2 separate regions of the Homo sapiens genome follow, and region 1 is reported to be linked to region 2. The links are microRNA targets in miRTarBase. Many come from high-throughput screens and were not tested one by one. Region 2 holds a microRNA gene; the other region holds the end of a gene's coding sequence.
The links. Region 2 holds the annotated microRNA hsa-miR-5703 (AGGAGAAGUCGGGAAGGU, at 2,268-2,285, shown strand). A microRNA usually pairs through its seed, bases 2 to 8, with sites in the 3' UTR of a target mRNA and lowers its output. Matches are read on the target gene's strand: a 7mer-m8 pairs with bases 2 to 8, a 7mer-A1 pairs with bases 2 to 7 and ends in A, and an 8mer does both.

Region 1: miRTarBase lists PTCD2 as a target of hsa-miR-5703. Seed matches in the 3' UTR shown: 7mer-m8 at 873-879, 7mer-A1 at 2,572-2,578 and 8mer at 2,636-2,643.

What each region holds. Positions count from the first base shown.
Region 1 is chr5:72,357,665-72,362,056 of GRCh38, forward strand. PTCD2 (pentatricopeptide repeat domain 2) reads left to right here. Exons shown (of 10, transcript NM_024754.5): 10 at 539-4,392. The coding sequence ends at 763. Among named protein-coding and RNA genes, the nearest start is that of PTCD2, 39 kb to the left of the region's middle.
Region 2 is chr2:227,469,895-227,474,286 of GRCh38, forward strand. MIR5703 (microRNA 5703) reads left to right here and starts at 2,238; the gene lies at 2,238-2,293. It overlaps AGFG1 (ArfGAP with FG repeats 1), which reads left to right and starts at 2,262. Exons shown (of 13, transcript NM_004504.5): 1 at 2,262-2,694. The coding sequence starts at 2,528. It overlaps LOC124907994 (a long non-coding RNA gene), which reads right to left and starts at 2,205. Exons shown (of 2, transcript XR_007088114.1): 1 at 1,266-2,205; 2 at 894-1,095. RefSeq lists an enhancer at 1,175-2,138 and a silencer at 2,251-2,970.

The DNA of each region.
Region 1 (4,392 bases), not on the chromosome of region 2:
TCCTTTACTTGGTGTGTTTCATTATATATGATGTGTTATTTGAACCCCCCTTTTTTTATATTAGGTATGATTTTCAAGTACTAATTTTGAATTTTGTGTGTAGCTTTTGGAATCCCTCATAGTAATACTGCTGTCTGTGTGCCCCAGTACCCTGGTTTTCACGATTTTAGGTGTATACCATACTTTTTTTTTTTTTTAAGACTCACTCTGTCGCCAAGGCTGGAGTACAGTGGCACGATCACAGCTCACTGCAGCCTCTGTCTCCTGGGCTTAAGTGATCCTCCCACTACACCAACTAATTTTTAAAAAAATTTTTTTACAGACAAAGTCTCACTGTGTTGCCTAGGCTGGCCTAGAAATCCTGTGCTCAAGCAGTCCTCCTGTCTCAGCGTCCAAAATTGCTTAGATTAAAGCATGGGCCACCTCGCCTGGCCTACCATACATTTTTGTTCATGTCCATTTCTTTTTCTTAGGGTTATAGTAAGAATAAGGAAGAAATCTTGCAGAGATGTAATGATGTGTTCTTGCTTTTTTCCAGCTGGCCAAAGTGAGGGAAAAAGTGAAGGATGTGCCTGCCCTTGTGGCCAAATTTGATGAGATCTATGGGACACTGCACATCACTGGCCAGGTCACCACTGATTCTTTGGATGCTGTGCTCTGCCACACCCCCAGGGACAGGAAATCTCACACGTTGCTATTAAACAAGAGGATGGTCAGCCGTCGCACCTTCCAGCCACTCAGCCAGTCCCTGTTGGCTGAGTAACCCTGGTTTCAGTCCACCTATGGATCTGAGGGGCCTGCTTCTAGTGAGTTATTACCTTTCCTAAGAAGCCAGGTATCGCACTTCAGCAGACAGTGTGCTGACACTTGGTCTTCTCCTGAAATTCCCAAATTCACTGAATGGTACCATGCCGATCTCTGAGAAGTTATGTTGCACCACTGTGAAGGTCTAGATGCAAGCTTGGCTCCCTCAGAAAGGCGCTTCCCTTTTGCATGGCTGAGGATCCTTGAAGGAACCTGGTCAGTCTCCGGTTCAGCTTCCGACACCAGAGTGGAACCCAGTAAGCACCATCAGGAATGAATTTCACTACAAGTGTGGATAACTCTGATTTTCAAAGGAGTAGTTACTTGCAAATTACATCCTTGCTGAATTCAGGAGGTATGAAACCCTATTTTACCATGTTAGAAAACAGCCCAGGATTTTCTCATTGCTCTGCCATCATATATGTCTATGACTTGAGCCCTTATTTTTCCATCTGCAAAACAATAATGCCTATGTGTCTTTGCATATAGATTTGAAATCTTCATTCAAGGTTTAGTAGGATCATATTTTCTCAAAAATAAGAGAAATAAGGTTCATAAGGAAACTTGCTGGGATTGTGGTTGTTTTGTTTTCTCAGCAGCACAAACAAAACCAGAATTTAGCCTTTAGGACTGCTGAGTAAGCCAAATTTAAATGACTACTGCTTTGTTCATGGGTAAGCCATGTGCTTTTCAAAATAAGTGCCACTAAAAACCACATAATGCTTTGGTTTCTATGTGGATAATAAATATTTAGTCCTATAGTTTATCTTATTTGTTAATGATTTTTCTCTCTTGAATGCCTCATATTAAAAAAAAATGTGCCATGAGAGCAGTTCAAAGCTGCTTCATACTTATGGTCTCAAATATAGTATGTGTTGAATTTTACCGTGTCTGGTCACCAGTGAGCAGAAGATACACAGTGACCCCACCTCACTTGCTCCTTTTGTTTCAGAAAGCCCAGAGGGTTGCTCAGACCTCAGGAGCTGTCTGCCAAGATTGCTGCAGACTCTTCATTGCCACCTCCAAAACTAAGACTGTTCACTTGGTTGTTGTTCTAAGGCAAGGATTATAGAGTCAGAAATTGTAGACTAGGAGAAGTCTTCTGAGTCTCCTAATTAATTCCTTCATCTTTCAGGTTAAGGAAACGATCCATGCAAGAGAGGCCCAATCTCAACTGTAGACTGTGTCCCAGTAAGAGAGTCACAGCTTCAGGTGTTTGCTGAATCCAGGTCTGAGATCACAATCCCACCTGAGGACAGGATCCGCATATGAGAGTCGCACATTGGTATAATTGATTTGTGGTAGAGCTGAGATTAGAATCCAGATTCCTAGTCTAGTATCCTTCCCACTGTACCACATTATCTCTTTTCAGAGGGGAAAAAGGAGCAGCTCTTAAGAAACAGAATACTAAGGGCCCCCATTACTGTGTGGCCCTGGGCATCCTCAGTTTCCTCATTTGGTAAATGGGGATAATGGTACCGACCTCTTAGGCTTGGTGTGAGGATGAAATGAGATAGGGAATATAAAGCAAGCAGATAGTGGCTGGCACATAGTACATGCAATATGTTTGAAACTAGTTAAGGAATTATAAAAACAAATGAGTTCTTCCTTCTGCTCAAAAATATTGAATTTCTTGTCCTTGTGCTCTGTGAAACATTGAACAGCCCCATTTAGAGAAACAAATTCTCTGCCCTCATAGAATCCTAATTGTTTCTGTATGTGTCTGGTGTTTTGCACATGCAAAAAAAAAAAAAAAAGTGCTTGGATTTCTCCACTTTCAGTCTTAGGGAATAATAGGGCATGCTTCCTGTCCCCCCAGCTTACTTTTCATCTTCTCCAACTCTCACAGTTCAAATGGCTCCAGTGCTGTGGGTGAGTGTGGCCTTGGTTGTTAGCTAACAACCATTCATTAGCGAAATAACCAAATTTTGTGAGCAGTAAATAGCAACAAGCTTCCCAATCCCTGCTGCCCAGCCGACTGGAAAAACTGGTCCATTCCACCTGTTCCCAGAAACCTCAGTACAGAGGTAGCTATATGCATAATGTTCACCCCAAAGTAATAGATGATTTTAAAGTCTTAAAAGTCCAATAAAACAGTGTTCAGTATAGGTTATGATAGGCATTTCATTCTTTAAAACTCAGTAATTCCTTTGAAAAAATGATGTTTCTTTATAAGCAGTAGTTTGCCTACATCATTTACTTGTTTTTTTCTGCTTTGGGGTTTTTTTTTTTTTGAGACACAATTTCACTCTGTCGCCCAGGCTGGAGTGCAGTGGTGTGATCTCAGCTCACTGCAACTTCTGCCTCCTGGGTTCAAGCAATTCTCATGCCCCAGCCTCCCAAGTAGCTGGGAATACAGTTGTGTGCCACCACACTGGCTTATTTTTTGTATTTTTTTAGTAGAGATGGGGTTTCACCATGTTGGCCAGGCTGGTCTCTAACTCTTATCCTCAAGTGATCTGCCTGCCTTGGCCTCCCAAAGTGCTGGGATTACAGGCATGAGCCACCGCACCTGGCCTACTTATCCTGTTAATGAAAATATTTGATTGGACAGAACATCTTATTCCTTAACTCTGTTATGTGCTTTTGTAGATTGTTTTTACTTACTGTAGATATCTGTTGCTCCAGAGTCCCAGAAATCAGTATGATGAGTTCAGCACAGTTACTAGAAGGAGACAAAAAGATATCTTCTTAATTAGGTGATATCAGGGATAGTTCTGGTTATTGATTGCTGTGTGGAAAACACTCCAAAACTCAGTGACTTTAAACAACACCAGTCATTGTGTTATTTCTCATTATCCTAAGTACTGACTGGGCTCAGCCAGACAGTTCTTATTCGGGTTCTCATGCAGTTATAGTCATCATCAGATTGTGGCCGCGACTGGCATAATCTCAAAGGCTTCCTTAGTATTTCTGGCAGTTGATGCTAGGACCTCAGCTAGTGCTGGGGCTGGAACATGTCTACACATAGCTTCCCCACAGCATGGTGGCTAGGTACTAGGAGTGACTGTCCCAAGAGGACCAGGCAGAAGCAGTTACATTTTATGACCTAGTCTCAGAAGTCTCATAACATCACTTCCACTAAAGTCCCAAGCCCCCCCAGATTCAAATGGAGGGAGCATATATCCCATCTCAGTGGTAGGAATTTCAAAGAATAAATTCTGTGAAACTGTAGTAGATAGTCTGTTTTCTCCCCTGTTTAAAACCTCCTGAGGACCTCACATGCTTCTGGATAAAGCTCAGGCTCTTCAACATGGTTTAGAAGGTCCTTCCTAATCTGGCCCACATTTGTCCATCCAGCTCCAACTCTTGCTACTCTACGCCCCTCTTCCCCTCTTGTGGAATGGCTAATTCCTACTCATCATTCAGGTCTTGGCTTAGACATCTTTTCATCTGAGAAGGCTTTCTGGTCTAGTCTCACCTGGTTAGGTGAACTCCCCATGTGCCCCATGTACCTCATTTATCAAAGTGCTTATCATATGCCTGTCACTGTCTGTTTTCTTCACTAGACTCAGGTGCCATGTCTGTCCTTTCTGCTCTGTTTGCTGGGTGCCTAGCATGGTAGGGGATGTATCAGAGGATTAGTAC
Region 2 (4,392 bases):
ATGAATGCCTGCCCCGCAAAAATACTGAACTGGATACTAGTGAACTAGATCTAACTACCAATTTTTAGGAAATAGAACAGAGGGACATGTTAAATGATACAGATTATGAGAAACTCTACAGAATAAAGTGCCCAATTACTAAAACAAATGAATTATAATTAAAAAAAAAGAGATGGTGGAGAGACCCAAAGAAACCTTATGAGACATATTACCCAGTTGCAAGGAGTGGGTTCAAACAAACTGTAAAAATCTCATTAAAATATTGATAATTGCCAACTTAAACACTAGTGCGATATTTGATGATCTTTAGGAGTTATTAACTTTTTTTTTTTTGAGGCGGAGTCTTGCTCTATTGCCCAGGTTGGAGTGCAGTGGCACAATCTTGGCTCACTGCCACCTCTGCCTCCCAGGTTCAAGTGATTCTCCTGCCTCAGCTTCCCAAGTAGCTGGGACTACAAGTGCATGCCACCATGCCTGGCTAATTTTCATATTTTTAGTAGAGACCCGGTTTCGCCATGTAGGCCAGGCTGGTCCTGAACTCCTGACCTCAGGTAATCCACCTGCCTTGGCCTCCCACAGTGCTGGGATTACAGGTGTGCGCCATCGTGCCCAGCCTATTGTTAACTTTTTAGATATGCTAACGGTATCATGGCTAAGTTTGAAAGAGATAAAGTTTTTATTTTTTAGGGATACAAATGGAACTATGTACCATTTAGATGAATGGTACGAAACCTAGAATTTGCTTTAAAATAATAGGAGAGGGGATGGAGGGTTGAGGTATTTATAAAGCAAGATTAGCCATGGGCTTAATCATTGCTGAAAGTGGTCCATGGGCTCATGGTAGTTTGATATTTTCCATAATAGAAAAGTTTAAAAACATTCATTGGCCAATCTATCTGTCCATTTCTTTTAATATTAAAAACATTAATTATTATTAGTAGTATTATATTAATATGAAGTCTCACTTTGTTGATTCACCCAATCCCTTTCATGAGAGATGTGGAGGTTGGTCTTGGCTGTTAGGAAACGTAGATTCTAATCCATTCAACAGCCCAGTGATTTGAGAACTTCAGCTCTCTGGGTCTCCCTGTACTCCTTTGGAAAACGAGAGACGAAGTTGATTGTTGCAGTGGGGATTTGGGTCCTGCAGTCTGGCTGTCTGGGTTGGAATTGAGCTTCGCCATAGGTACCCTTGGGTAAATTTACTTAATCCCTCAGGGTTTCATCTTCCTGTTTTGTAAAATGTAAATAACAATAACGCTCACCTCGAAGGGTTGTTGTGAAGATTACATGAACGATTTCATGTATTCATTCCGTCAACATTGAACACCTAGTCTCCAGCTCTGCGAGGGGAATGGGGTGGAGTGGCACAGAAAATACGGGGGCCAGGCTGTTTAGCGCCTAAAGGGAGAGTCCAGATCACCCATGGTAAACACGAAATAAGATGCAGTATTTCAAATAGCTAGAACTGAGACGAAAATACAACGCAGCAATTTGATGGAGAGCAACTTCGAGAAAGGTGAGCTGCAACATTAACTCGGCTGATCTGGGACAGTCTGGCGGGGGAGGTGACATCTGAGCCCCACCTGACTTAGAGGATGTCAGCTATGGATGATCCGGGTTTCCACACGCAGCAGTTCTCAAGCCAGGTGACTGCACCGCCCTAAAGTTCCCTCCACTTTTGGCAATGTCTGGGGATTTTTGGTTGCCAGCAATGGGAATTGGGGGGTTTGTTCTTGTATCTAGTGGGTATAGGCTAGGAACGCCGCCCAGTATCCTACAGTGCACAGGACACCCCAAGCCCCCCCAAATTAGCTGGCCCAAAGATAAAGAGAGAAGAGCAAGGGCAAAGGTCCTGCAGGAGTCAGAAAGGAGCTTGCTGTGTTCAGAAAACTCAAAATCCAGTGTGGCTGAGTGAGGACGACGAAGAATGAGGTAGACTGGGCTAGACTATGGAGCACTTTTTACGGCACGGTGAGGAATTTGGAATTATACTCAAAGCAGTGGAAAGCCCTTGAAGAGTTTTAAACAGAAGGGGAAGGTAACCCATGTGAAACGCTTTGCATATATAAGCGCTCAATAAATACTGTCTATTATTAATATTATTATCACCATTGTGTCTACCCTACTTGGCTCCAGACCCGGCCCATGCCTCAGCGAGGCCGCAGTGACTCCTCCTGGCCAGCAGAGGGCGCCAGCGGACACTTGGCTACCGGCCGCCCAGGGCGGGCCTCCTCTTGCCGTCCCCTTCCTCGTCTTTTCCCCTCAGGAGAAGTCGGGAAGGTGGCGGCGGCGGCGGCGGTTGTCCCGGCTGTGCCGGTTGGTGTGGCCCGTCAGCCCGCGTACCACAGCGCCCGGGCCGCGTCGAGCCCAGTACAGCCAAGCCGCTGCGGCCGGGTCCGGCGCGGGCGGCGCGCGCAGACGGAGGGCGGCGGCCGCGGCCAGGGCGGCCCGTGGGACCGCGGGCCCCCGGCGCAGCGCTGCCCGGCTCCCGGCCCTGCCGGCCTCCTCCCTTGGCGCCGCGGCCATGGCGGCCAGCGCGAAGCGGAAGCAGGAGGAGAAGCACCTGAAGATGCTGCGGGACATGACCGGCCTCCCGCACAACCGAAAGTGCTTCGACTGCGACCAGCGCGGCCCCACCTACGTTAACATGACGGTCGGCTCCTTCGTGTGTACCTCCTGCTCCGGCAGCCTGTGAGTGCGGGGCGGCCGGGCGGGTGTCGGGCCCTTCCCGGGAGGTGGGGGAGCGGGCGGCGGGACCGGGACCCTTCCGGGGCTGGGAAAGAGCCGGGTGCCGTGGGAGGCGGTCGGGGGCGGCCGTTGGGCGCCGGCTGGCGGGCGCGGCGTGGGAGGCTGCGGGCTGGATGCGCAGGGCCCGGGCAGCCGGGCTGGGGATGCGTTTTCGGTTTTGCCGGGCGAGGGTTTACGTTCTGGGCAGCCTTCGTGGGTGGGACGTGGGCGGGGTTGGGGTCAGGGAGGGGGCGACCGGGGCGAGCGTCCCTGGTCTCCGTCGAGCCTGCGGCCGCCGCCCTCGCTCTCCAGCTACCCGGGGCGCCGGGCTGTGGGGGGTGGGGGAAGACGCTAGGAGGCCGGGGGGGAGGTCCATGCGGGTCCTTTGTGTGCCCCGCCTCTCAGCGGCCCGGGAGCCGCGGTGCGGAGCGAGGCACCTGCTGGGCGCTCCTGCTGGGGGTCGGGGAGAAGCTGGGGTGGGAGGGAGGGACGCCTGCCTCGCCCGTGCCTTTTTTCTGGGTCGAGAGTACCTACGTAACTGGGAGGAAGCAGGCACTTAGGAATAGTAGCAGGATGAAAGCATCTTGATGGCAGATGTGAATCCCCTGGGAAAAGTTCGAAAGGATTAATTGCGGGAGGGGGAGGCAGAGGAGCAGATTTGAAGCTGTGGGATTTTAGTTTTATGGTCCGAAGAGAGTGTTGAGGAGTTGGGGGAAAGTTTTAATGGCAATAAGGTACCCACTAGGAGCTGTGTGATTCTAAATATGATGGAGTTATCTGTGAGATTTATCTGTATCTCGCTATCAATACCCGAGTGCCCTGGCTGTACACAGAAATGAGGAGAGCTAGCAAGTCACCATGATTTCAGAAAGACACTACCGTCCTGAGTTACTGGGATGATTTGTGTTTGTTGTTCTTTGCTTCATTAAGCTTTATTTTGATAAAGATTTTTATTGCCGTGCAATTTCATTCGGAAAATTTGCAGGTGGTTTTGGAATTGATAAAATGCTTTTATATTATTATCTTGTATTTAAAGTTACTAACAACGTGGCAGTTACTAAGTATTTTTAAAACCTTTGCTTGTAAGATTAATACAAAGCACATAATACTTTATGTGGGAAAATTGATTTCTTAAAACTTAGAAAATGCAGAACATGTCTAGTATGTACTATTTGCTTTTTAAAGTTGGGCAAAGAGGCATTATTAGTATTACATGAGTGTTATTTCTTCAGCAGACATTTTTTTTGGTGCCTATTAGGTTGTGTAAGGCCCTGGGGTGTGCCAGTAAATATAGCAAAGTCTTGTTCTCTTGGTTCTTACAGTCCAGTGGGGATGCAAAAGTAAGAAAAATGTCTTGGGCAAGTACTATGCTGAACATGAAAATTGTTTGATAGGAGAGTGCTCATGGTTACTTTTAGGCTGTGTGGCCAGGGAGACACTCTGAGAAGTTGCCAGTTAATAATATTCTCGAATTACTACAGAATCACAGAGCTAGGTGATATCAAGGAGGTAGCCTGGTTCATGCATTTCATTTACAGAAAAAGGAGTTAAGCTAGAAAGTTGTTACTTACGTTGGACAATATTGGTTCCAAAATGAAGCCAATAGAACAATTGTAATTGTATTTGATTTTTATTACATGGTTAAGATGTATGTCCTGCTTT